7 linked regions of the Homo sapiens genome follow. The protein of the gene in region 4 purifies or fractionates together with the protein of the main gene of each other region. This does not show direct contact. Each region holds a gene or a part of one and is shown on either strand. Other genes may lie near its edges. The genes, in order: BTK, SEC16A, WDR62, KATNB1, MPHOSPH9, PTPN2 and TUBA3E.

Region 1 (3,500 bases), on a different chromosome or scaffold from region 4:
GCTTGAATCTGGGAGGCGGAGTTTGCAGTGAGCCGAGATGGTGCCATTGCACTCTAGCCTGGGCAACAGAGCGAGACTCCATCTCAAAACAAAACAAAACAAAACAAAACAAACAAAAAACAAAGAAGGGAGAATGAGAAGTAAGTTTTTTTGCTTTCTGCTTTTCTGCCAGTGAGACTAGGACAATTTGAGCCTTGGCCTGACTGAAAGAAACAGGGGCGCAAACTCTGATGCTTACAGGGGCCAGGCAAGTTAAGTAAGAGTGAAGTGAAGTGGATCGAGATTGCAGGAAATGGAGAGTACATGCCTAGAGGAAAGGAGGCGGTTCGTGAGAATGTGGACCTGGTATTTCCAGACGGTGTAGATTTTCAAGAGAAGCTGGAAATTCCAGGGTTTTTTTTTTTTTAAGCGAAATGTTTCTTTTTAAGGGTTTGCTAATTATTATATAACATAAAAAAAACCCACACATGTGGGCCAAATGCATCCACAGGCCCCAGTATGTGACTCTGAAGGAACCAAATGATGGCCCCATGCCAGGAGCAGTCCCATTGGGAAGCACAGTCCCTTCTGTTCCAAATCCAGAATGGCCACTGAAAGACCCCACCATTTTCTTGTGGGTGGTAGGGGGTTGGGAGTGAGTGACTGCTCTGATTCCCACCACGGCAGACTTCATGGAGCTGAGGCTGGAGATATTTGATGGGCTCAGCACTGGGGCAGAGGCACGCCTAACTTATAGTACTTTCTAGATAAAATTGAAATGATGGCACCAGCAGCCCCCCTCAACCATGTATGATATATCTTCCACTGCTACTTCCACCCCATCAGCCCTTTGTCCTAGGCCAATCCTTCTAAGGTCCCACCAGGTCTCGGTGAAGGAACTGCTTTGACTCCAGGTATTCCATGGCTTCACAGACATCCTTGCACATCTCTAGCAGCTGCTGAGTCTGGAAGCGGTGGCGCATCTCCCTCAGGTAGTTCAGGAGGCAGCCATTGGCCATGTACTCAGTGATGATGAAGATGGGGCGCTGCTTGGTGCAGACGCCATACAACTGCACCAGCTTCTCATGGGAAAGATTCCTACAGGAAAGGCAAGGAACTAGTCTTCTCCTTTTGGCTCTGCATAATAGCAATAAAGGGGCTGGGGAGGAAGGGGCTGACCTAGGAGTAGAGCATCAGATAAGGGGTCACACCAGCAAGTTTATTTTCCTCTTTCCCACCCTAAATCTCAAAAGTGCTTAAAATGTGGAAGCAAGCAGGGATTTGGAGCCCATCAATTGAAAAAGAAACAAGTCCAGGAATGAAAGAACGCTAAGGCTAAATTAGAATATTTCTCTTGAAAGTTTAATTTTCTACATCTACCCCCAAATGCTACTGAGATGGTACACACCCATGATCACCACTATTCTCAACCAATATCTAAGGCACAGAAACTATTATCTTAGCACTTAGGACTACCGCCAGTTAAAGGTAAACTTCAGTCCCTCGTCCCAAACCTCTCTTACTGTAAGTCATCTTTAAGCCTCAGTGGGTTGTTGTGTGAATTCCTAGACTCCAGCAAATAGATTGAGAGTTGAGTTTGGGCTATAACTCACATCATGACTTTGGCTTCTTCAATGAATTCATCTTCAGACATGGAGCCTTCTTTGATCATCTTGATGGCCACGTCGTACTGGCCTCTCCATTTCCCATACTTCACTACCCCAAATTGTCCAGTCCCCAGCTCCTTCAAGAAGGTCAGGTCCTTTGGATCAATTTCCCATGATCCTAACAATAAAGTCTTGGTGTGATTCTTTGGGGTCATGAATGTATAATTCTTACAATAGACAAAAATCCCTACTGGGGTAGAAATAGGAAAACTAGTAAAAGGGAAATTTTTAGAAGTACTAATCTGTCTTTGCTTAAGTCAATCTCAGAAACGGGATTCATTGGTTAGAGGAATCTGGGAATTTTAGGTTCAAGGTGGCCATAAGGCAAGAAGATAGACTAAGCAACCTCCCCAAATCCCTTTATGATTATGTTAGTGATGGTAGTTAATGAACTCAGGGATAGTACTGAAAATTTTCCCACAATTAAAAATAAAAGACAAAAAGACCCAAGACAACGACAAAGCCCTTTATGAATCTATGTTTTTGCAGTCCCAGTCGTAGCCACTAGAGGAAGAAAATCAGTGAATAACTTTTGCTTGGATCTGTCTTGAGCGTCCTTGAGGCAGCTGCTGCAGAACAGTGTACCTCAAGGACACTCCCTAAGGCAAGGCCAGCAAAGGTAGTTTTTGCAACTGGCCAGTCCACCCTACCCCAGAGAAATAAGGAGTTACCGTATCCCAGGCCTGCAGTGGAAGGTGCATTCTTGTTTTGTTGAGACACTGGATATTTGAGCCTGGATATGAGTCCTGAAACAGAGAGAGAGGTCATGCTGTTGGTGTGGTGTAGGAGGTGGGATGCCTCACACATCCTCACTTAAAGCCTCACACTTCCGGTGTGTATCTTTCTAGTACATTTTGAATCCCAGAAGACCTCCATGAACCCACATATTTCCAGAGGTTTCTCCTCTCACAAAATACTTTTCAGGGACAAAAAAGAGAAAATACTAATTGAAATACACTGCCTAACTGAATATATTCCCACCTCCCAGCCCAGGCTTAGCTCACATCCTACCTTCTTGATGAAGCTGTTCCCCCATATCCATGCCCTCACTAATGTCTCAGTTTTTAGAAATTTTACAGTGCTTATAAACTTTCTTCTGATGTTGTCTAACCTGTATGTTCTTTGAGGACAAGGACCTCGACTCAGAATGTTCCCGTGTTCTCCTCTAGAACTGAGGAAATCGCTGAGTACACAGTAGGAACTCAATGAATACTTGCTGATGAATCAGTCACCAGCCTCTTTTGTGTCTTCTCTTAACACTGAACATCAATCACCAAATAAAGAGTCAGTCCCTGTTGGGTGTAGGTCTGCCTCTGACCACCTCTTTACCAGCTTCTACCCAGTATCACAGGGATTTCCTTTCACAGTGAATTCACACTGTCCTGTGAGGCAGATTCTTCCTCTTATCACCTTGTCCTGCATTGCTTATCCTGGTGTCTGTAACTCCCTTCTCAGTTGCCCCTGGTACTCACCTGCAGAGTTGTGCTGATGGTAGTTAATGAGCTCAGGGATGGTGCTGAAAAGGTGCTTCTCAGCCAGGTAATACTGGCTCTGAGGTGTGGAACACACAACATAATGACGTATCACCCCTTGAGGGTCCCTGAAGAAGTGGATGCTTAGTCAGTAACTTGGGCACAAAGGTCAACAGAACCCAGGAAGTGAAGTGAGATGAGTTTTGAGTTTCAGAGACAGAGGAAGTGGGACGGGCACAGCATCAAGGAGCTATTAGGAGGGTACCCCTGTTCTTTGTCCTCAGGGCCTTGGAATAGTAGCACTCACCCTGTGGATTTAGCAAACACAGACACTGTATATTTGCCAGCTTTGCTGGAGTCTCTGACAATGAAACCTCCTTCT
Region 2 (3,500 bases), on a different chromosome or scaffold from region 4:
TTTGTGAGAATGCCACAACTTGTGTCATGCACATTTCATCCGAGATTTGGCACACACAGCAGGGGCACGGCCTGTGCTCAACATGTGCATTTATCGAATAACTGAAAATTTAATCTGCAGGTCTCCAACACTGGAAACAGTTAGAAGGAAACCAACATTAACACCTCCAGAAGGATGGCATACAAGAGTCAGGCATTGTTCAGGAAACAGCAAGACCCGAAGCCCCACACTGCAGCGCGGATGCTCCCAAGAGGGGGCCACGTCCCTCCCTGAAGGCTGCAACCCCGCACCAGGCCCGACCCAGTGGACATGTGCAGGCGCCAGGTGCCATGATGAGGAGGCGCACCTTCTTACGGCCATACAGCAACAGCTCCCTGAACCTCTCGGTCTCTCTCTCGAGCGAGCTGGCGGCAGCCGCCGGACCACCAGTGAGGAAAGAGAGCTGGGCCTCACCAGACTCCTCCTCTTCCACCTGCTCCACTGCCTCATTCGTGAAATCAATCAGGTTTGCTTCATTGGGCGACTTCCCAGGAAGCCACACTGTTCTGTGGTCTCGTAACAGAAGCTCCGCAATGTCGGTCCCTACCACGGTCTGTTTGGGTCAACAGGAACAGGAAGGAGAACAACGGCTCTCAGGTGAGGACGCGTTGGACCACCACAGGCACAAAGCCCCACCCTGGACACAGCCAGACCCACAACTACCCGAAAGGCTGGCAAGGCTGGGCTGAAACCTCATCCCATCCCAACCGCACGTTCCCTCTCCCTCCCTACCCAGCCACTACAGTGTGCTTCCTAAGGGGGCCCTCGAGGCTCCCATAGCTGGCCACGCGGATCCCGCCCTGCTCCTTCGGGAGGCTGAGCATTCCCAAGACGAAATGAAGACCAGCAAGAAGAAACACTCTAGAAGTAGAAAGAAACATACCCCATTTTGTCTGCATAAGAGAACAATAAAATTCCAAAGAAGACTTGCAGACTCTTTGTCAATTAAGTTTTCATTCTGCAAACATTTCATAGCTTTGTTCTGTGCAAAATTAATGACATCCACCTTATGGGTGTCGTCTCTGCAGAAAGAACACACAGTGAGCAGTGATGTCTGCAAGGCCGGGCTCACAAAGAAATGCCTCAACAAGGAACATACTTGGCCAGGGGTCCCGGGAACGCCCGCATCTCCTCCTGCTCAGACGTGTGCTGCAGCAAGGCCTACGAGGAGAGGGCCGTGGGTCAGTGGCAGCCAGTGCGCAGCCACCCTGCTGGCAGGCCGGCCAACCCAGGCACGGATGCTGCCCGTGAGAGGAGAGGATGGCATGGCCCACCTGCCCCGCCCCACAGCAGGTGAAGGCTCTGTCGAGGCTGTTACATGGAACATGGCCTGTGTGGACCACAGCCATGATTTCAAACTTTATTTTAAGTAGTGAAATCCATTTTCTCTCCCCAAATACTGAGGCAGAACCCCAATACATGTGACAGAAGCCTGCAGAAGCTGCAGGAAGAGGCGCATGCCAGCCCCCGTCACCTCGGCAGCGCCGTGCACGTCCACCCCACCCGCCCCCCTCACCTGGGCAGCACCGGGCCCACCCACTGCATCTATCATTGAAAAGCACCAATAAAGCAAACATCCCCAAAACGAGGACAGAAAATGCATATACAATCAAACCACGTTGAACACCCAAGGCAGACGCTTACAATACTGACTTCTAGGAGGAAAAATATATGATCAAATAGAAGAAAAACCCTACAAATTGAAAATTCACAGGAATAAACATTTTCCAAGGACGTATGTCCAGAGACAAGGTCTGACAATTGAAGATGACAAACTGCAAAGCAGAGAGTTCCCCAGGGCAGCAGAGCAGTGACGCCACGCTTCTGCGTGTGCCATTACCTCCATGCTGTGGACCTCCACCAAGGCCGGCTGTCCTTCTGAAGGCAGATTGGGAATCACTTTGATAAGCTGACCGCCAGGGCCAAACCTGGCACAGACATGAGGCACTGAAAATTTTTCAGGAGAAGTTGGTCTTGATGAAACTGCATTTAAAATAAATTGAAAAAGAAACAATCAGCTTGTCACTGATGCTTCTGAGCCTAGATTTTCAATGTGCTCACACAGCTTAAATCACAGGTTAGATTTATCACGACAGACTTCCAACTCAAAAGTCGGTAATTGTTTAATATCATACTTAAAAGTAGAACTTCAGCATACGTCAGGAAAAGAAAAATGTCTGAATCATTAAGCATGAAAGCTGTTCCCTTGTACACTGAGAAAGCTCCCGCAACACCCTCATGAGCCGCCCTGAGGCTCCTGCCACGGTGCGTAATCCTCCCAGGCCTGGCCCACTCCCGAGCTCTTCCATTTTCACAAAATCAAATTCAGACTGCGATGACCACACAGCACCCAGCAAAAAGGACAGCAAAACACCTCAAGCAAAAAAGAAAATAAGGAGCCAGGCATAGTGGTGCATGCCTGTAATCCCAGCACTTTGAAAGGATCCAAGGCAGGAGGGCCACCTGAACCCAGGAGACAGAGACCATGACCGTGCCACTGCACTCCAGCCTGGGTGACAGAGTGAGACTCTGTCTCTTAAAAAAAAAGAAATGAAAAAATGTTAACTGAAACAATACTTTAAGAAAGTAAGGCCGGGCACAGTGACTCACACTCTAATCCAAGCATTTTGGGAGACCGAGGAGGATGGATCACTTGAGGTCAGGAGTTTGAGACCAGCCTGGCCAACATGGCAAAACCCCATCTCTACTAAAAATACAAAAATTAGCTGTGCATGGTGGCAAACACCTGTAATCTCAACTACTCAGGAGGCTGAGGCAGGAGAATCGTTTGAACCCGAGATGCAGAAGTTGCAGTGAGCCAAGATCACATCACTGCACTCCAGCCTGGGAGACAGAGTGAGACTCCATCTCAAAAAAACCAAAAAACAAACAAACAAAAAAACTCAGCCTACCATTAAATTCTGTAACTTTATATCTTTACGTATATTTCTGCAATTTGCCAAGAAAAAGCATTTGAGCATCCTGGAAGGGAACTCTGACTGACACGCGGGACAACTGCAGGAGCGGAGTCTCCAAGGGGAATGAGCAGCTCCCTCCTGCACGCCTGCTGAGCCACGGGGTCTGCGATGGGGATGTGATCAGGGGCTGCCCAGAGCCTGGATATGAGCTGTCCTCAGAGTCACACTTTAAAACGCATGTCGGGGCAGGCAGGGCAGCTCTCAGGCCTTAAACCAAACTGCAATCGAAGAGACAGCATCGGCCCGTCCTGACACACCCTGCTTCTCGGAAGGACGGATTGGGTCAGAGCCAGGCCAGGACATCACAATTCCAATCCCAGCCCTGACTCCCGTGTTCAGATGCCAGGCTGGGTGGCCGCCCCAGTGGGGTTAGCCGGTATCCCTCTGTCCTGCTGAGCACACACCTTGCTCCATGGCAGGCCAGACGGTGTCGGCAGGGTAGCCATACTCTGGGAAGCCGGGGCCACTGCTGAAATTGCTGCG
Region 3 (3,500 bases), on a different chromosome or scaffold from region 4:
GCTGGGAAGGAATTGAGGGACCCAGCAGGTGTTCCTTCTTGGTTTTTTTTTGTTTTTGTTTTTGAGGCAGAGTCTTGCTCTGTTGCCCATGCTAGAGTGCAGTGGCACCATTTTAGCTCACTGCAACCTCCACCTCCTGGGTTCAAGTGATTCTCCTGCCTCAGCCTCCCAAGTAGCTGGAATTACAGGCGCCTGCCACCATGCCTAGCTAATTTTTTGTATTTTTAGTAGAGACGAGGTTTCGCCATGTTGGCCAGGCTGGTCTCGAACTCCTGACCTCAGGTGATATTGCCCACCTCAGCCTCCCAAAGTGCTGGGATTACAGGCGTGAGCCACCGTGCCCGGCCACCAGCAGGTATTTCTTAGAAGCTGGGCTCTCCCAAGCCTGGCCTCCAGGTCAGCAGAGGGCTTTCTTCTGGCTCTCCCTAGAGCCGGTGTGGGATGACTAAGGTGCTGATGTGGCACATAAACTCCCTCATTCACCCGTATTCCCTGAGCACCTAACTGGGCTGGATGGTGCTGGGATCATGGCAGTGGCCAGGATAGCCCCAGGCCCTCCTTCATGGAGCTCACAGTCCAGTAGAATGGACACGGCCACCTCACAGCCACAGACAGTGACAGAGTGGTCAGAGATGGGGGAGCCCAGGGGCCCTGTGGAGACACCTGACCCCACCTGCGGATCAAGCAGGACTTCCTGGAGGAAGAGACACCTTAGCCTGGGGAGGATGTGGAGGAGCGAGCCAGGGGGAGGCAGAGAGTGAGTGTGCAGAGGGCAAAGCAGTGCAAAGAGGCTCTGCACCCCTTCCCAGTTCTTTCTCATGCGGTGCCAAGCACTGAGCTTGCAGTGTGTGGGGGAGATGAACATTAACTCAGTGGATACCCCAGGACAACCTCAGCTTGAGATGGGGTTTCAGTTTCAGTCTAGGCATCAGATGGGGACAAGAGGTAGCAGGGGGCTTCCAGGGGAGGGGAGGACAGCAAGAGCCAGAGAATGAGGTGGTGGGGTAGGCGGGGCCCTGTTGGCCGCAACATGCCCCTACTTCCCCAGAGTCTACAACACTGTGAACGGGAAGCAGAAGAAGTGCTACAAGGGCTCCCAGGGTGACGAAGGGTCCTTGCTGAAGGTGAGGAGTTGGAGACCCCTGTCTGTCTGCTGCCCTGATGGGCCACCTATTGTGACGGCCCACACCTGAGACCTGTGCCCTTGGTCCTTCCTCAGTGCACCGCGCTGCCCAGCACCTTCTCAGGCCTGGTTAAACAAGGATGCTTGCGAGAGGGTGGGGAGGGTGACCCCAGCTGTGTTTCCTTTATTTACAGAGCCCTTCCCCAAGTGGGGCGTCTAAGTGGGTTCCATTTTGAGTGGCAGCAGGGTATGGTGGGAAGAATCAGAGGCATGAACTCCCCTCCTGGTTTGCCCACACCAGCCACGGGTCACTCAGGACAAGGGGGGACCTTCTCAGAGCCTCTGGTCTAGGACAGTTATGGGTTCAGGTTCTGCCTCAGGCTGACTGTGTGACCTTGGGCAAGCATCATCTCTTGAAATGCACACAGACAGCTTGTCTCATAGACTTGTTCTCTGGAGGAGTTCAGTTTGCACATGTTCAGTGCTTAGCACAGGGCCTGGCTACTGTTGTTACTGCTGCGGTGGTTGTTAATTTCTTCACGTGTCGAATGGGAGCGGGAGCTCCTGCCCTGCCAGAGTCCCATGTGCTGTGCATGCAGCACGGGGGAGGGAGGGGCCCAGGCCTCATCATAAGGAAGAAGCAGGCAGCTGGAGTGACATGTGGGTCCCTTTCCTGGCAGGTCCATGTGGACCCCTCAGGCACCTTCCTGGCCACCAGCTGCTCTGACAAAAGCATCTCAGTGATTGACTTTTACTCGGGCGAGTGCATTGCCAAGATGTTTGGCCATTCAGGTGGGTGTGCCTCTCTGCTTGGGATGCCTCCCCACCCGCCCACACCCTCTGACTCCGAAGGCAAGTGCAGCCTCTCTGCTTTGTTTGCAGAAATTATTACCAGCATGAAGTTCACCTATGACTGTCATCACTTGATCACAGTATCTGGAGACAGGTGGGACATGGACCTTTGGGAGAGTTGTGGCTCAGATACCATGAGCACTGCACTCAGCCTGCCTGTGTAGAGAGCATTTCTAAACTGCCCAGTTTGGATTGTGGGAGTCTTGGTGTCACACCCAGCCCTGAGTTCAAATACCAGCTCTAAGCTGGGCATGATGGCTCACGCCTGTAACCCCAGCACTTTGGGACGCTGAGGCGGGTGGATCACTTGAGCTCAGGAGTTCGAGACCAGCCTGGGCAACATAGCAAAACCCTATCTCTACAAAAAATTAGCCGGGTGTGGTCATGTACACCTCTAGTCCCAGCTACTCAGGAGGGGGAAGATGGCTTGAACCTGGTAGGTAGAGGTTGCAGGGAGCACAGATCATGCCAGTGCATTCCAGCCTTGGTGACAGAGCAAGACCCCGTCTCAAAAAAAAAACAAAACACTAAAAAAACATATCCCAGCTCTGCCATTTATTTTCTTGTCACCTTGAGCAGGTTATTTCCCCTGAGCCTCAGTTTGCTCCCCTGTAAAAGACACCACCGTTTACATTTACCTTAAAAATGGTGTGATGAGGCCGGGCGCAGTGGCTCACGCCTGTGATCCCAGCACTTTGGGAGGCCTAGGTGGATGGATCATCTGAGGTCAGGAGTTCAAGACCAGCCTGGTCAACATGGAGAAACTGTGTCTCTACTAAAAATACAAAAATTAGCTGTGCGTGGTGGCAGGCGCCTGTAGTCCCAGCTACTTGGGAGGCTGAGGCATGAGAATGACCTGAACCTGGGAGGTAGAAGTTGCAGTGAGCTGAGATCGCGTCACTGCACCCTAGCCTGGGTGACAGAGCAAGACTCTCTCAAAAAAAAAAAAAAAAGAAAATTGTATGGTGAGAAATGAATGAGATGATATACATACATTCTTTAGCACATGGGTGGTACTCAAGGAAGTCCCTTTTGTCACTCCCTTTGATTTACCCCAGTTCTTCCCCACAGCCCCCTTCCTCAGGTCTTGAGGCCTCCAGAACAGGCCCTGGTTTGCTGGGATGCCCCAGACCTGGGCCCAGGGTGTGGATGTGGCAAGTCCAGCACCCCTGCACTAAGCGGATAGGGGTGTGTTTTCCAGGAGCATCTGGAGAATGGGGTCCAGGCTGTGGTGTGGGTGGCTTCAGGGTCAGCCACGGCAGCGGCTCCCATGCTTACTCTTCCTCTGCCTTGTGTGTCTCTCTTTGACCTCCGCAGCTGCGTGTTCATCTGGCACCTGGGCCCGGAGATCACCAACTGCATGAAGCAGCACTTGCTGGAGATTGACCACCGGCAGCAGCAGCAGCACACAAATGACAAGAAGCGGAGTGGCCACCCCAGGTCCTGGCAGCCCCTGCCTGTCCACCAGAGGGATGAGTCCCTGCCAGGGCCCCATGGAGTGATGCTGGGGACACAGTGGTGGCCA
Region 4 (2,487 bases):
AGCTGGGCTCCTACTCACGGGCAGGAAGTCGGAGGCCTTCAGCCCGATGGGCTCGTTCCGGGTGGCAGGGATGATGGCAGGCTCAGCCTTGGGTGCAGGTGTGGAAGCAACCACTGGGGGCCGGGGCAGGACCTCCAGCTGAAAGTGTGAAACTCAGCGGTTGCCGGCCTGGGGCCTCCCTCTCTGCCTCCCGAGGCACCCCCAACCCTGGGTCAGGACCTTCTCTAGGCCCCACACCATGCTCCCTCCATGGACATACATTTGGCACCGGGAACTGCACATCCATGGCAGGGCTGGGCTTTGCTGCCTCCTTTGCTGTGGCTGCGTCTGGAGGCAAAAGGAAAAGATGACTGGGTCCGGCCAGAAGGGCCTGGCAAGAAGGGCAGGGCTCAGGGCGGGACTCTGGGCAGCATCTGCAATGGGGGGATGGAGCAGGAGCATGGGGGAGGCTGCAGGCCAGTGGCGTGGGGGTTCCAGAGGACCTGGGGCAGGCCTGGACCTGCCTCCTCCCTCTCCCCCAACTCAACCTTAGGTCTGCCTGTGGGTGGGACCCAGGGGGCTCTAGGATGTGGCCATCCTGTCCCTTCACTGGCATGTATGTGGAGGGGGCTGGGATGACTGGCAAGATGGAAGTGGAGGCTCCTAGGAAAGCCAGGACTGACGGCAAGGACGGTCCCTGAGGGGAGGGCAGGGGTACTCTACAGGACAGGTGGCCCCATGCCTGCCCGTTCTCCAACCACAGTGCAGATCATTTTTCTCCCTTCTTAATCCAAACCCCCAGCTGAGGCCTTGTGGGCCTGACCTCTTGCTGGGACTCGCCCCAGCTCACCTCCTCTCAGCTCCCTTCCTGCCAGAAGCACTTCTCTCTCTCTCTTCTCACTGGCCCCCAGGCCTTGACAGGCATTGGGCCTCCTGAGAGCCTCCCGATCATCCCGTCTACAGCAGACCCCATCTAAGGTGGGCCCCCAGTGACTCCTCTCCATCCTCCACAGCCCGAGTGCCCCTGGCAGGCCCCCCAGTGTGGTGGTGTCCATGTTTGTCCCCCACACACCAGGGCACAGGCTCCTACGGGGGCACTATCGGTCTTGCAGGGACCTGGCACATAACAGGCAGAGGGCAGAGACCCAGCGGGAGAGGGTGTGGGTCGTGTCCTGAGAGGGGAGGGTCCTGGGAAGGGGCTTGTTGGGAGGGTTCACAGGAAGAGAAGATGAGGGACGGGGGGGCATCAGAGACCTTGGGAAACCAGGCTCACCCAACTCACCGTCCTCTGGGGGTGCAGGGAAGGGCTCACTTCTCCGGGGTGGCGTCCGACCTGCAGAGGAAAGAGGCCCCTGGCTGTGAGCGCTCCTGGCCAGGCCACCTGGGACCCAGGGCCCTGTCCAGAGTGCGGGGGACGGAGGGTAGCTCCCAGGCATGCGGCTGCAGACTGTGGACCCTGCTCCTGGTCCCAGGAACCCTCAGTCCTGCCCCTCCCAGCCCACTTGTCCCTGGCAGGGCAGGGACTGGGACACTGAGCAGCTGCTGGGCCGCTGCTGGGGAGTGCCCAGGCCCCCCTCTCAGTTCCATCAGAGCACAGCCTGGCAAGGCCCAGGGAACGTGAGGACAGGATACGGAGCCCAGGTGTGGGTTAGGAGGAAGTTAAAGGGATGCGGAGCCACAGCAGGCTACCCTGGAAGGACCCCCAGCCTCCCTTTCACCGATGGGGACGCTGGGCTGGGGGCGGGAGCCCGGCCTCACTGATGCTGTTCTTGGGCTGGAAGATCTCGTTGTAGTCCTCGGCGTTCTGGATCTCCGCGCGGGACTCGCGCTCGTCCCGGTCATCCTCGCTGCTGGGGCTGCGGCGCTCGCTCTCTGAGTTCTGCTTCACCCTGGGAGCGTGAGGCCAAGCCCAACGGAAGCAGGTGCCCTGTGAGGCCCAGGGCTGGAACTCCGAGGCTTCCCCTGTGACAGTCCCTCTCCTGGGCCCCCGAAGGCCCCCCAGGCCCTCACCTCTGAGGCTTGCTGCAGGTTGTGCTGGGCCGCTCATAGATGCGCCGGAGGGGGGCGCTGGGGTTGGGCAGTGGCTGTGCCAGGGGCCGGTGGTCCTGCACAGGGTCCCGGGCCACCGTGCCAGTCCTGGTGACACGCGTCAGATCCACCACGTAGGAGGAGACGTTGCTCTGGGAGAAGGCCACACCTATCTGCAGAAAGCGGAGAGGTGGGGCTGGGACTGCAAGCCGAGGGGGCAAAATCCCAGCCCCAGTGTGGGGGTAGGAGGAGGGGCCTGGGCTGGAGGGAGGCGGGTGGCCCTGTGGGAGTGGGGGGCGGTGGGTGCCATGGCTCTCTCACCAACTGGTCATTGCAGATGGCCAGGTCGGCCACCTTGCCCCAGTTGACGAGGACCACATCAAAGCACCGCTCAGGTTCCCAGCCGTAGACACGCAGTGAGTCCTGGCAGCCGCTGTACAGGCAGCAGCCGTCTGGGTTGAAGAGGACGCTCCTGGGCCA
Region 5 (3,500 bases), on a different chromosome or scaffold from region 4:
GTGAAGAGTAGCATTACTCCAGCTATGGCCACAGCCTGGTGGTCTGGGGGAATAGTTGGGGTTATTCTACTCAAAGCTCATGGGAATAGAAAAGTACCACTTTTCACCACTTTTATGTTCTTGTCATGTTAACATCTCTAAAGTAGGGATGCCTCTTGTAATTAATGGCATTTTATAATTGCTATTGCTTTGGGCCAAGTTGTGGTTGTGACAGACTGTCATTCCCTGCTCATGAGCTCAAAATTGGCCAAATAGGTATCAGCAGCTTGGAAGACAAACCTACACACTACAATGAAGCTCCTGAGGACCAATATTTAAGAGAACGGTGAATCAGACACGTTTAGCAACATACTCCACATGGGAGTCCAAAGCGGGCTAGTCCTACATGCTACTAAGACAGGTAAAAAGCAGAAAGGCCTTTCTATTCTTTTTAAAGAAATGCAGAATCGCTGATGCTCTTGGTGGGCTAGAGGAAGATAACGTGGGAAAACACAGAAACTAACACCAAGGTGAAGAGAGAGAAATGGCCAGGCATAGTGGTTCACATTTGTAATCCCAGCACTTTGGGAGGCTGAGGCAGGAGGATTGCTTGAGTCCAGGAGTTTGAGAGACCAGCTTGGGCAACATAGAGAGACCTTGCCTCTACTAAAAACAAACAAACAAAAAAAAAATGAGCCAGGTGTGGTTGCACATGACTGTAGTCCCAGCTACTCAGGAGGCTGAGGCAAGAGGATCGCCTGAGCCCAGGAGGTTGAGTCTGCAGTTATCTATGATGAAGCTGCTATACTCCAGCCTCGGCAACAGAGTGAGACCGTGAAGAAAGAAAGAGAGAAAGAGAGGAAGAGGAGAAGAGAAGAGAGGAGAGGAGAGGAGAAGAGAAGAGAAGAGATGAGAAGAGAAGAGTATAACACTCTGAGAAGGAAAGAATTTTAGCCACTTTTATTTCACTTATGTTTTCCTTTTTAAAGTATGCATAAGAGTTATATAATAAGCCAGGCACAGTGGCTCACACCTGTAATCCCAGCACTTTGGGAGGCTGAGGCAGGTGGGTCACAAGGTCAGGAGATCGAGACCATCTTGGCCAACATGGTGGAACCTCGTCTCTACTAAAAACACAAAAAAATTAGCTGGGTATGGTAGTGCATGCCTGTAGTCCTAGCTACTCAGGAGGCTGAAGCAGGAGAATCGCTTGAACCCAGGAGATGGAGGTTGCAGTGAGCCGAGATCACACCACTGCACTCCAGCCTGGCAACAGAGCAAGACTCCGTCTCAAAAAAAAAGTTATATAATAGGCCAGGCACAGTGACTCACAGCTGTAATCCCAGCACTGTGGGAGACCAAAGCAGGGGAATCACTTGAGCCCAGGAGTTTGAGACCAGCCTAGGCAACACAGCAAAAATCCTCTCTCTAATAAAAAAAAAAAAAAGTTACTGATACATAATAAAACCTATGTTTAAGTCTAAAGACTCTTTCCATAAGAATAAAATATAAATTCTAAAGTGGTTAAAAAAAAAAAAAAAAAAAAGCATTGTATCAGTCTAATTTATAAATTTTTCTTGGTAGAACATGAAATGGGAAACCTTAAAGTTGACAATACCGTAGAGTCAACAAAATGCAGTATCCACTTACTGATGTTCAAGATCAGATAACACTGTGAGCCCTGCAATTGCAAAGCCTACTAAGCCTGCCTTGCCCCCTACAATCTTACCCCCCTCATACTTCATTTCTCTGTGTTGACCTGTGTCTTTTTGTTCCTTTCATGAAGTACGGAACATTGGTTTCCGTCACTGAGACTCTGATGCTTACAAGTACATTGCCCCATCTGTCTGTCTGTATATGTCATTCATTTTTATGTCTCTTGGTTACTTTAATAGTATCTCTCCTTTTCCCCAGGTACTCTTTCATTACCTGATCAAAATACAGAAATGAAGGCCGGGTGCACTAGCTCATGCCTGTAATTCCAGCACTTTGGGAGGCCAAGGCGGGCGGATCACCTGAGGTCAGGAGTTCGAGAGCAGCCTGGCCAACATGGTGAAACCCTGTCTCTACACAAATACAAAACATAGCTGGGCATGATGGCAGGTGCCTGTAATCCCAGCTACTTGGAAGGTTGAGGTGGGAGAATCATTTGAACCTGGGAGGCAGAGATTGCAGTGAGCTGAGATCACGCCACTGCACTCCAGCCTGGGCAACAGAGCGAGACTCCGCCTCAAAGAAAAAAAAAAAAGAAAAAAAAAAATACAGAGGTGAAATAGGTACATTGATGTACATTTACTGAATAGTTTTATTTCTTTGCTCTTAAATTTAAAAAAAATGGGCCAGCGCAGTGGCTCACGCCTGTATTCCCAGCACTCTGGGAGGCTGATGTGGGTGGATCACCAGCCTGGCCAACATCACGAAACTCCCTCTCTACTAAAAATACAAAAATTAGCCAGGCATGGTGGCGCATGCCCATAATCCCAGCTACTCAGGAGGCTGAGGCAGGAGAATCACTTGAACCTGGAACCACTGCACTCCAGCCTAAGTGACAGACTGAGACTCCGTCTCAAAAAAAAAAAAAAAAAAAAATTTTTTTTTTAAATGTACCTTTCTTACTCAAAGAAAATCCAGCAAATTGGCCGGGCGCAGTGGTGCATGCCTGTAATTCCAGCACTTGGGAGGCCAAGGCAAGCAAATCACGAGGTCAAGAGATCGAGACCATCCTGACCAACATGGTGAAACCCCGTCTCTACTAAAAATACAAAAATTAGCTGGGCGTGGTGGCATGTGCCTGTAGACCCAGCTACTCGGGAGGCTGAGGCAGGATAATCACTTGAACCCGGGAGGCAGAGGTTGCAGTGAGCCAAGATCGCACCACTGCACTCCAACCTGGCGACAGAGTGAAACTGTCTCAAAAAAAAAAAAAAAAAGAATACAGCAAATTAAGTTGCTCATAACTATGGTGGAAATGGATCGCATAACAAATGAAAATGAATGGAGGTGTAACAAATGAAAAATCAACACCAATTCTGGGAAAAGGGGAAGAAATTAATAGCTGAGGACCTACTACATATGAAATAGTAGGCACAATCCATTTAATTTCACAAAACACTAACCAGCATTTTTTTTTTCCCTTTTTGAGACAGGGTCTCACTCTGTCACACAGGCTAGAGTGCAATGGTGTGACCTCCCGGGCTCAAGTGATCCTCTCACCTCAGCCTCCCAAAGTACAAGGATTACAGGTGTAAACTATGATGCCCAGCTCAAGCCAGCCAGAATTTTTTAAAAGTGGAATTTTTAATTCCACTTTTTTCTGTTGTTGTTTTTGCTGAGGCGGAGTCTCGCTCTGTCACCCAGGCTGGAGTGCAGTGGCACCATCTTGGCTCACTGCAATCTCCACCTCCTGGGTTCAAGTGATTCTCCTGCCTCAGCCACCTGAGCAGCTGGGATTACAAGTGCATGCCACCACGCCCAGCTAATTTTTGGGTTTTTAGTAGAGATGGGGTTTTACCATGTTGGCC
Region 6 (3,500 bases), on a different chromosome or scaffold from region 4:
TTATAAAGATGTGTGTTCAACAAAGTACCCCACAAAAATGTTAAATTGTCTCCAGAATTTACACTGGTCAATTTTTGAAGTTTCCACTCTTGACTGAGACCTAGTTATGTAACTTGGCCTTATAGCTGGACAACACTCAACAATGTCAACAAATAAGATGACACCAAAAATCAAGTCTCACTGGACCACTTCCCAGAATATGCAACAAATTCAGAATACGTCAACAAGGAAAGCACTCGGCAGAGAGAGAAATAAAAGAGATATTTAATGCTAGTGAATTAAAAAAACCCCACAAACCCAACAATGTCATTTTGCCATGGCTATGTTCAGCAAACTCACTCATGGCTATGTTCGACAGACTCATTCATGGCTATGATCAGCAGACTCACTCGTGCCTATGTTCAGCAAACTCACTCATGCCTATATAGGTTCAGCAAACTCACTCGTCTCTGTCCTCCCTGTGACACACAAGGGAGCCAGCACTCCTGAGTCACCTGCCTCAGGTCATTAATGCTGACTGGTGAAGCCAAGGAATTACATTTCACTAAACTATAACCTCAAAGGAGCTCTCATTTTGAGGCCTGGTACTGTTTCATCTTTCTTTCTAATTCTGTGCTCACGTTGCACCAACCCATGAGTCACTGCCACTAGGAGCCATGCCCCCCACACAATGCCTAGAACCCTAGCTCTACCCATTTCTCTCACTGAAGAAAGCTTTAAGCAATGCAATTAAACTTCAAATCCTCTGTAATTTGTTAAAAGTTTATCATTTACATTTAATACTTTATTAGTAATATCAAATTACCAGCTAGAGATCTTACAACATTAGTTCTGAATTGCCAAACTAGATATTTACTCTGGGGGGTTAACTGTCATCATCAATACTGGGAATATGCTAATAAATATGTGGTAATACCAGCAACCAGCTTAAGTATTTATGCCTGACCTTGTGCTGAAAGGCAATTGCAAATAGCCTATATGTCTATAGGAATGTCAAAGTCATTGGAAGTTTTCTGTAAATGAATACATGCTTTAAGATTATAATTACACATATTTACAGACTTAAGATACAATCACTTTGGGCTGGGTGCGGTGGCTCACGCCTGTAATCTCAGCACTTTGGGACGCCGAGGTGGGCGATCACTTGAGGTCAGGAGTTCGAGACCAGCCTGGTCAACACTGTGAAACCCCATCTCTACTAAAAATGCAAAATTAGCCAGGAGTGGTGGCAGGCACCTGTAATCCCAACTACTCGGAAGGCTGAGTGGGGAGAACCACTTGAACCTGGGAGGCAGAGGCTGCAGTGAACCGAGATTGTGCCATTGCACTCCAGTCTGGGCAACAAGAGCAAAACTGCGTCTCAAAAAAAGAAAAAAAAACCAGTAGCATGTGTGGTATGTATTTATTAATCCAACTTTATCAGTAATCACTTCATATGCCGATGGTCTAAATGCACCAATTAAAAAAGATTCTCAGAATGCCAAGACCATTTCTGCAGAAATTAACCCCTTGGAATGGGCAGCATGCTTTTCTGATCCTGAGTACCTGAAGGATAAAGATGTTTCCAATATCCTATCTGGAATAGGGGCAGAAAATGCCTTAGAATTGAGAGCCTGAGGACAATATCACACCAGATAAATTAACAGAAAAAAAATCCTTCCTAGCCACAAACTGCACTGTCAAAGACTCCACAAAAAAGTGTGTCCAGAAAAACTCATCTCTGTGATAAAAAAAGATCCACCCTCAGATAAAGTATGTATTCTAAAACTAAAGACACAAAACTTAAAAAAAAAAAAAGCAGTGGTAGGAAAGACACAATCCAAAGGACAATACATTTCCCTCCCAGTTACCCGTCTCATCACAGCCAGGAAGCAGGCAGGGAAGGCGGCATGCAGGCTGTGAAGGCATGGGGAAATCTGATTGAACTACTTTTCTTTTTGAACTCCAGATTTAAGTTGGTGAAAGCTCACTGTGATTAGAAAGGGAAATTTTCCTAATCTTAAACATCTGAAATAACTTTTACTTCACCTAAATCACTGATCACTGCCAAAGTGACCCTGGCAAATCCAGTGTTCCCAAAGTCTGGCGTCTGAAGCAGGACATGTTCTAATGGGCTGAGTTTCCCAAACATTGCGTATTTTGGCTCTGAGTGCCCTAATGTTTCTGTGCATTAAGAATATTTTAATGCTATTTAAAGATTTGGAAAAAATCTTTTTAAATAAACCTTTATTCTGACACCAATGGTCCGATCTAATTTACATTCTTATATTGGCTAGTAATCAGAGAAATGAAAGTGCTAGTAAATATGTTCACACATGAGAAACATAATGAAAAGACAGTCGATCTTCTTATATTATGCATCAACTTACAGTATCTGCTTATGTCCAATACTATGTGATTAAACCAGACAAAAAATGGAGTCTGTGGTTGTTTCTATTTTACATTTTAACTTAGTACATAACACAAGTTTCTGATCAGTCTTTGAACTTAGGTTCTACAAATATGCAGTAAAAATAGCTTAATGAGAATAAAGCCACCAACCAGAAGAATATAACATTTTGCTGGAATTTCATTATATCTGCCATAAATATTCAAGTTGCTTGTTGTTATAAAGTCAAATATCACATAAACCAAGTATCAGTGTTTAATGAAGGCAAAAGTATCTCAAGTTTCCAGTTACTTTAATAATTAAAAGATTAACCACCCCCAAAATGAAAAATTCAGTTTCTTTAATGAAATCTTGTTTCTACAAGGGCTTTTAAGTAACACACAGGATTTAACCTGAGGCTGAGTATATATGAGGAAGCTAGCTAAAATTTTACAATTTTAAGACAGCCAGCTGGATTTACCACAAAAATTCAAATACACTCTTTGAAACAAAGACAAGGGCTCAAGTGGAGTGCAGTTATTTGATGCTATGTGTATTTAACAAATAGATATGATTTAAAACCTGTATGAAGTTTACCTGTATACTAGAATCTCCCTTTATACATTTTGCTCCTTCTATTATAGCCATGTATGAGAATCTCAGTTGATCTGGGGTCTGAATAAGACCCATTCGGTATTTTCTCATGTTCAGTAACACTTGTTTTATGTTAATATCATCTCCTTTTTCCATCTGCAAGAAAGGCAAAAAATGAGACAAGTCTTGTTATTGGAACCCAGGAAACAGAATCAATGCAAGATCATTGCTAAGATTTTTGCTATGCATTTTCTCCTCTGAAAGAACAACGATAATTTAACCCTCCAGCTATAACTGTTATGTACACAACAACTATCCCAGCCTACTCATCCCTCCCCACATCTCAACCCCTCAAGTAGTTGGAGGACTTTGATTCTTTAGCTGATTCACAACTGATTCCAAACCAATCATAGTAATCTCATTCCTTCTGGCCAGTCATTGGTTAAAGGAAGGATTTATAACCAGTTCTGGCTAGTATAAGGACTATTTTTTTTTTTAAAAGTCATGGCAGGAGTCAACCTTTCTGCTCATTCCCCTT
Region 7 (4,043 bases), on a different chromosome or scaffold from region 4:
GGTAAACAACTTAGGAACTGCCTCTTCTTTTCCTTTAAAAACCCACTTATAACTGCTGCTAATATTTTAAGACAACTTGCATCTCCAGGGTTGCACTTCTCAAACTTGGCCCAAATAAACTATTTTTTTTTTCAAGATGGAGTTTTGCTCTGTCACCCAGGCTTGAGTGCAGTGGCGTGATCTCAGCTCACTGTAACCTCTGCCTCCCGGGTTCAAGGGATTCTCCTGCCTCAGCCTCCTGAGTAGCTGGGATTACAGGCGCATGCCACCATGCCTTGCTAATTTTATTTTTTGTAGAAACGGGCAAGGTGGGACTCACCACGTTGCCCAGGCTGGTCTCGAACTCCTGACCTGAAGCAATCCTCCTGCCGTGGCCTCCCAAAGCACTGGAATTACAGGCATGAGCTGGTGTGCCTGGCCCAACCTCTCCACTTACGTTAATTTTGCCTCCTTTCTTCCTTTTTTTTTTGAGACAGAGTCTGGCTCTGTTGCCCAGGCTGGAGTGTGCTGTGGCCCAATCTCGGCTCACTGCAACAACTGCCTCCCAGTTTCAAGCGATTCTCCTACCTCAGCCTCCCGTGTAGCTGGGATTACAGGTGCCTACCACCAGCCAGGGTAATTTTTGTGTTTTTAGTAGAGATGGGTTTTCACCATATTGGCCAGGCTGGTCTCGGGAACTCTTGACCTCAAGTGATCCACCCGCCTCGGCCTCCCGAAGTGCTGGGATTGCAGGCGTTAGCCATCGCGCCCGGCCCGTTTTCTCCCTTTGGGTCAGAAAAGTGATTGAATCCTGCCACTTCCCGGGTGCTGGGTGGGAACAGGGAAGAGGGGGATAATTGCGGTGCTGCTGTGACTTGGGTAGATGGCGGCAAGGCCTCTCAGAGGTGGCCTTGTTTGCAAAGATCTGAATTAGGCAGGGAGAGGAGCAGGCCTGGGGCAATCAGGGAGGGGCAGTGGCACACTGGGAGCAAGGCAATGTTCCGCGACCCACAGAGGCAGCGCAGTAGCTGTTCCAATCCTGGTCGGAAGACACCCCGGAAATGCCTCAGCAACCGCGCAGCCTTTGATGACCCCGCTGCCTTCCCGCCAATCCTGCATCCAATCAGAGAGCATCCCCACTACACGTGTTGAGCAACGGCCAATCAGAACTGGGATCCGGCCCTCGGCCTGCCTCCCAGGAACTCCGAGCCAATGGCGGCCTGGCACCGGCAGGCCAATCCTGTGCGGCGCGCGTGGGCAGGTCATTGCAGTTGGGCGCTCAGCAGCTGTGGCAGCCGGTTGAGGTCTGGAAGTAGCGTTGGGCTGAAGCAGCGGAGTTCGCCATGGTAAGACCCGGGTCACTCCCGCCCCGCAGATGCCCAGGCAGACGAAGTTGGCCTCGGGTGGACAGAGGGACGTTGTTGCGGGCCTGGGCGCTGAGAGGAGGCCAGAGAAGGACGCAGGGTCTAGTGCGGGACAGGAGGACACGGGATCGTTTCCTGGATCTGCAGGTCCCAGGGCAGGGACGGCGGCTTTTGTTTTAGATGAAGCTGCCGGCCTTTAGTGGACGGGGACCATTGACGGTATCCCGTCCCCCAGAGAGCAAATAGTGGCGTCGCCTCCTGAAGACAGGAGGGCGCTGCTCCCGCTTCACACGTCTTTGTGCTACTGGAAACAGCTGAGGAGCTGCAGGAGCCTTCGGTGACGGGGGTTGGGGCTGTGGACATTGGTCAGATGAGGAATTAAGGCTCAGACGCTGCTGCAACATTGCCTTGTTCACCTAAAGGCAACCGTTAGGCCAGGCGCGGCGGCTCACGCCTGGAATCCCAGCCCTTGGGGAGGTGGAGGCGGGCGGATCCCCTGATGTCTGGAGTTCAAGATCAGCCCGACCAACATGGCGAAACCCAGTCTCTACAAAAAAATACTAAAATTACCCGGGCATGGTGATGCGAGTCTGTGGTTCCAGCTACTCGGGAGGCTGAGGTGGGAGGATCAGCCGAGCCTGGAACTTTGAGGCTGCAGTGAGTCGTGATGGCGCCAGTGCACTCCAGCCTGGGCCACAGAGACCCTGCCTCAAAAAACCAAACAAAAAAAGCAGCCCATTAACATAACAGATTCCCAAGTCCCAAGTCTGAATAGCTGTGATTTGTCAGTTATCCTTTTTTTCCTTTCTTTTTCTTTTTTCTTTTCTTTTCTTTTTTTTTTTTTTTTGAGACAGCACTCAATAAATGCTCTGTTGCCCAGGCTGGAACACAGTTGCAAGATCACGGCTCCCTGCAGCCTTGAACCCCTGGCTTCCAGCAGTCCTCCCGCCTCAGCCTTCCGAGTAGCTGGTACTACAGGTGTGTGCCACCACACCTGGCTAATTTGTAAATTTTTCATAGGGACAGGGACTCACTATGTTACCCAGGCTGGTCTCAAACTGGTCCCAAGTGATCCTCTCACCTCAGCCTTCCAAAGTGCTGGGATTACAGGAATGAGCCACCACACCCAGCTTGGCAGAGTTTAAAGAAACCACCAAAGGACAGTGCAGTGTCCCAGCACTGATGATGTCTGGGAGCCATTACACCCGTAGGCTTCAAGGGGTAGAGAGAGGGCGTGGTTACAAGAAATTAGGAGGGTAGTTTTATGAAGAGGGCAGCCTGCCAAAAGTGTAGCCTTGAGAGGGATTCAGGTCACCCACAGCAGTTGAGCAGGAAGGGGCCAAGGAGGGAGTACCCTGGCACTGCTTTCCTCCAGCCCCCCAGTATCCCACTGCTGCCTGCCATTGACCAAACCAGCAAGAAGCCAGAGGGCGAGGAAGGCCTCTGATGCTGTTCTCAAGGGTCAGCCTTCGAGAGCACAGAGCAGGTGGTGAATGATGGACGGGGTAGAACTGGGGGGCAGAGAGAGGACACACACTGAGCACCTGGGCTTGGACCATGGTGACCTGGGACCTACTCTGTATTTCCTTACCCAACCCGACTACCTTATCCTTTGATCAGGACATAATCAAAAACTGCTACTTATTCTTCAGAGAATTACTGTGACGGGCTATAATGTGGGGTTGATTATTGACATTAAATGGCTTCCAAGTTTTAAAATAACCTAAGTTTTGTGTAGTGGCAAACAGGTTCTAGGGCTACTTCTAGAACTTACTAGCTAGTATGGTTTACAGCAATTAGTTTTCACAGCGATAAAGGGATCAGTCACTAACCCTCCTAGGAAATATCGATTGTGAAAGCGCCAGATACTGAAGCACTATATAAATATTAAATTAGAATATTTTGCATGCCATATAGTTTCAAGTTGCCTTGAAATGAATGGGTTCACATTTATGTTCCGGTTCACAGCGCGAGTGTATCTCTATCCACGTGGGGCAGGCGGGTGTCCAGATCGGCAATGCCTGCTGGGAACTGTACTGCCTTGAACATGGAATTCAGCCCGATGGTCAAATGCCAAGTGATAAAACCATTGGTGGCGGGGACGACTCCTTCAACACGTTCTTCAGTGAGACTGGAGCTGGCAAGCACGTGCCCAGAGCAGTGTTTGTGGACCTGGAGCCCACTGTGGTCGGTAGGTGCCTGGGCACTGGATGGCAGCTTTCCTGAGAGGGTGGGAGAGCATTGGTAAAGCCCCGTGTGGGCTCCTTTGAATCCTCCTGCTGAAAGGATGGGATAGACAGGCATATGCCCATGGCATTGTTAGGAGAGAAACTGAAAGGTTTGTGATGAAAGTGTCTGTGAGACTCGGCTCCTAATTTAGGAAAACCTGACCTACAGGGAAAAGCTGCTTTGCCAGCAGTAAGATGGGCTGTGAAGAGATTCCCTCATGGCTGCCTCAGCCCTGCTCAGGTGGCCCTGCCTGCAGGGTGCAGTGGCATTGGTTCCCTCCCGAATGCTGTGCATTCTCTTATGCTGGTGCACGAGAGTCTTGACCTGCATCTTAGGCATAGAAGGTAAGTACAGAACAGTCATTTGCTTCCTTCAGATTCGCAGCCTGAGGTAGTTTCCAAGGAGAGCTACAAAGAGGCAGCACCTTTCAGTGGCCCCCCAGGAGATGACAGCATCACCTGAAAGCCTGTG

What was found.
Region 1: the proteins of KATNB1 (region 4) and BTK purify together in Homo sapiens (affinity purification with mass spectrometry; 2 studies listed by BioGRID and IntAct, with this or other methods). This does not show direct contact.
Region 2: the proteins of KATNB1 (region 4) and SEC16A purify together in Homo sapiens (tandem affinity purification; one large-scale study listed by IntAct). This does not show direct contact.
Region 3: the proteins of KATNB1 (region 4) and WDR62 purify together in Homo sapiens (tandem affinity purification; one large-scale study listed by IntAct). This does not show direct contact.
Region 5: the proteins of KATNB1 (region 4) and MPHOSPH9 purify together in Homo sapiens (tandem affinity purification; one large-scale study listed by IntAct). This does not show direct contact.
Region 6: the proteins of KATNB1 (region 4) and PTPN2 fractionate together in Homo sapiens (co-fractionation; one large-scale study listed by BioGRID). This does not show direct contact.
Region 7: the proteins of KATNB1 (region 4) and TUBA3E purify together in Homo sapiens (tandem affinity purification; one large-scale study listed by IntAct). This does not show direct contact.

Annotation. Positions count from the first base shown.
Region 1 is NC_000023.11:101,355,192-101,358,691, forward strand, and holds part of BTK (tyrosine-protein kinase BTK), read right to left. Parts: coding exon 3,426-3,500; intron 3,247-3,425; coding exon 3,119-3,246; intron 2,393-3,118; coding exon 2,318-2,392; intron 1,765-2,317; coding exon 1,593-1,764; intron 1,078-1,592; coding exon 861-1,077; intron 1-860. UniProt on the Homo sapiens protein: Non-receptor tyrosine kinase indispensable for B lymphocyte development, differentiation and signaling. Binding of antigen to the B-cell antigen receptor (BCR) triggers signaling that ultimately leads to B-cell activation.
Region 2 is NC_000009.12:136,462,541-136,466,040, forward strand, and holds part of SEC16A (protein transport protein Sec16A), read right to left. Parts: coding exon 3,422-3,500; intron 2,023-3,421; coding exon 1,880-2,022; intron 1,201-1,879; coding exon 1,139-1,200; intron 1,062-1,138; coding exon 923-1,061; intron 593-922; coding exon 347-592; intron 1-346. UniProt on the Homo sapiens protein: Acts as a molecular scaffold that plays a key role in the organization of the endoplasmic reticulum exit sites (ERES), also known as transitional endoplasmic reticulum (tER).
Region 3 is NC_000019.10:36,089,397-36,092,896, forward strand, and holds part of WDR62 (WD repeat-containing protein 62), read left to right. Parts: intron 1-1,048; coding exon 1,049-1,124; intron 1,125-1,803; coding exon 1,804-1,915; intron 1,916-2,005; coding exon 2,006-2,069; intron 2,070-3,292; coding exon 3,293-3,415; intron 3,416-3,500. UniProt on the Homo sapiens protein: Required for cerebral cortical development. Plays a role in neuronal proliferation and migration.
Region 4 is NC_000016.10:57,752,770-57,755,256, reverse strand, and holds part of KATNB1 (katanin p80 WD40 repeat-containing subunit B1), read right to left. Parts: intron 2,480-2,487; coding exon 2,329-2,479; intron 2,181-2,328; coding exon 1,990-2,180; intron 1,869-1,989; coding exon 1,738-1,868; intron 1,313-1,737; coding exon 1,262-1,312; intron 328-1,261; coding exon 260-327; intron 139-259; coding exon 19-138; intron 1-18.
Region 5 is NC_000012.12:123,205,642-123,209,141, forward strand, and holds part of MPHOSPH9 (M-phase phosphoprotein 9), read right to left. Parts: intron 1-3,500. UniProt on the Homo sapiens protein: Negatively regulates cilia formation by recruiting the CP110-CEP97 complex (a negative regulator of ciliogenesis) at the distal end of the mother centriole in ciliary cells.
Region 6 is NC_000018.10:12,811,238-12,814,737, forward strand, and holds part of PTPN2 (tyrosine-protein phosphatase non-receptor type 2), read right to left. Parts: intron 3,119-3,500; coding exon 2,966-3,118; intron 1-2,965. UniProt on the Homo sapiens protein: Non-receptor type tyrosine-specific phosphatase that dephosphorylates receptor protein tyrosine kinases including INSR, EGFR, CSF1R, PDGFR.
Region 7 is NC_000002.12:130,195,640-130,199,682, reverse strand, and holds the start of TUBA3E (tubulin alpha-3E chain), read left to right. Parts: upstream 1-1,243; 5' UTR 1,244-1,322; coding exon 1,323-1,325; intron 1,326-3,311; coding exon 3,312-3,534; intron 3,535-4,043. UniProt on the Homo sapiens protein: Tubulin is the major constituent of microtubules, a cylinder consisting of laterally associated linear protofilaments composed of alpha- and beta-tubulin heterodimers.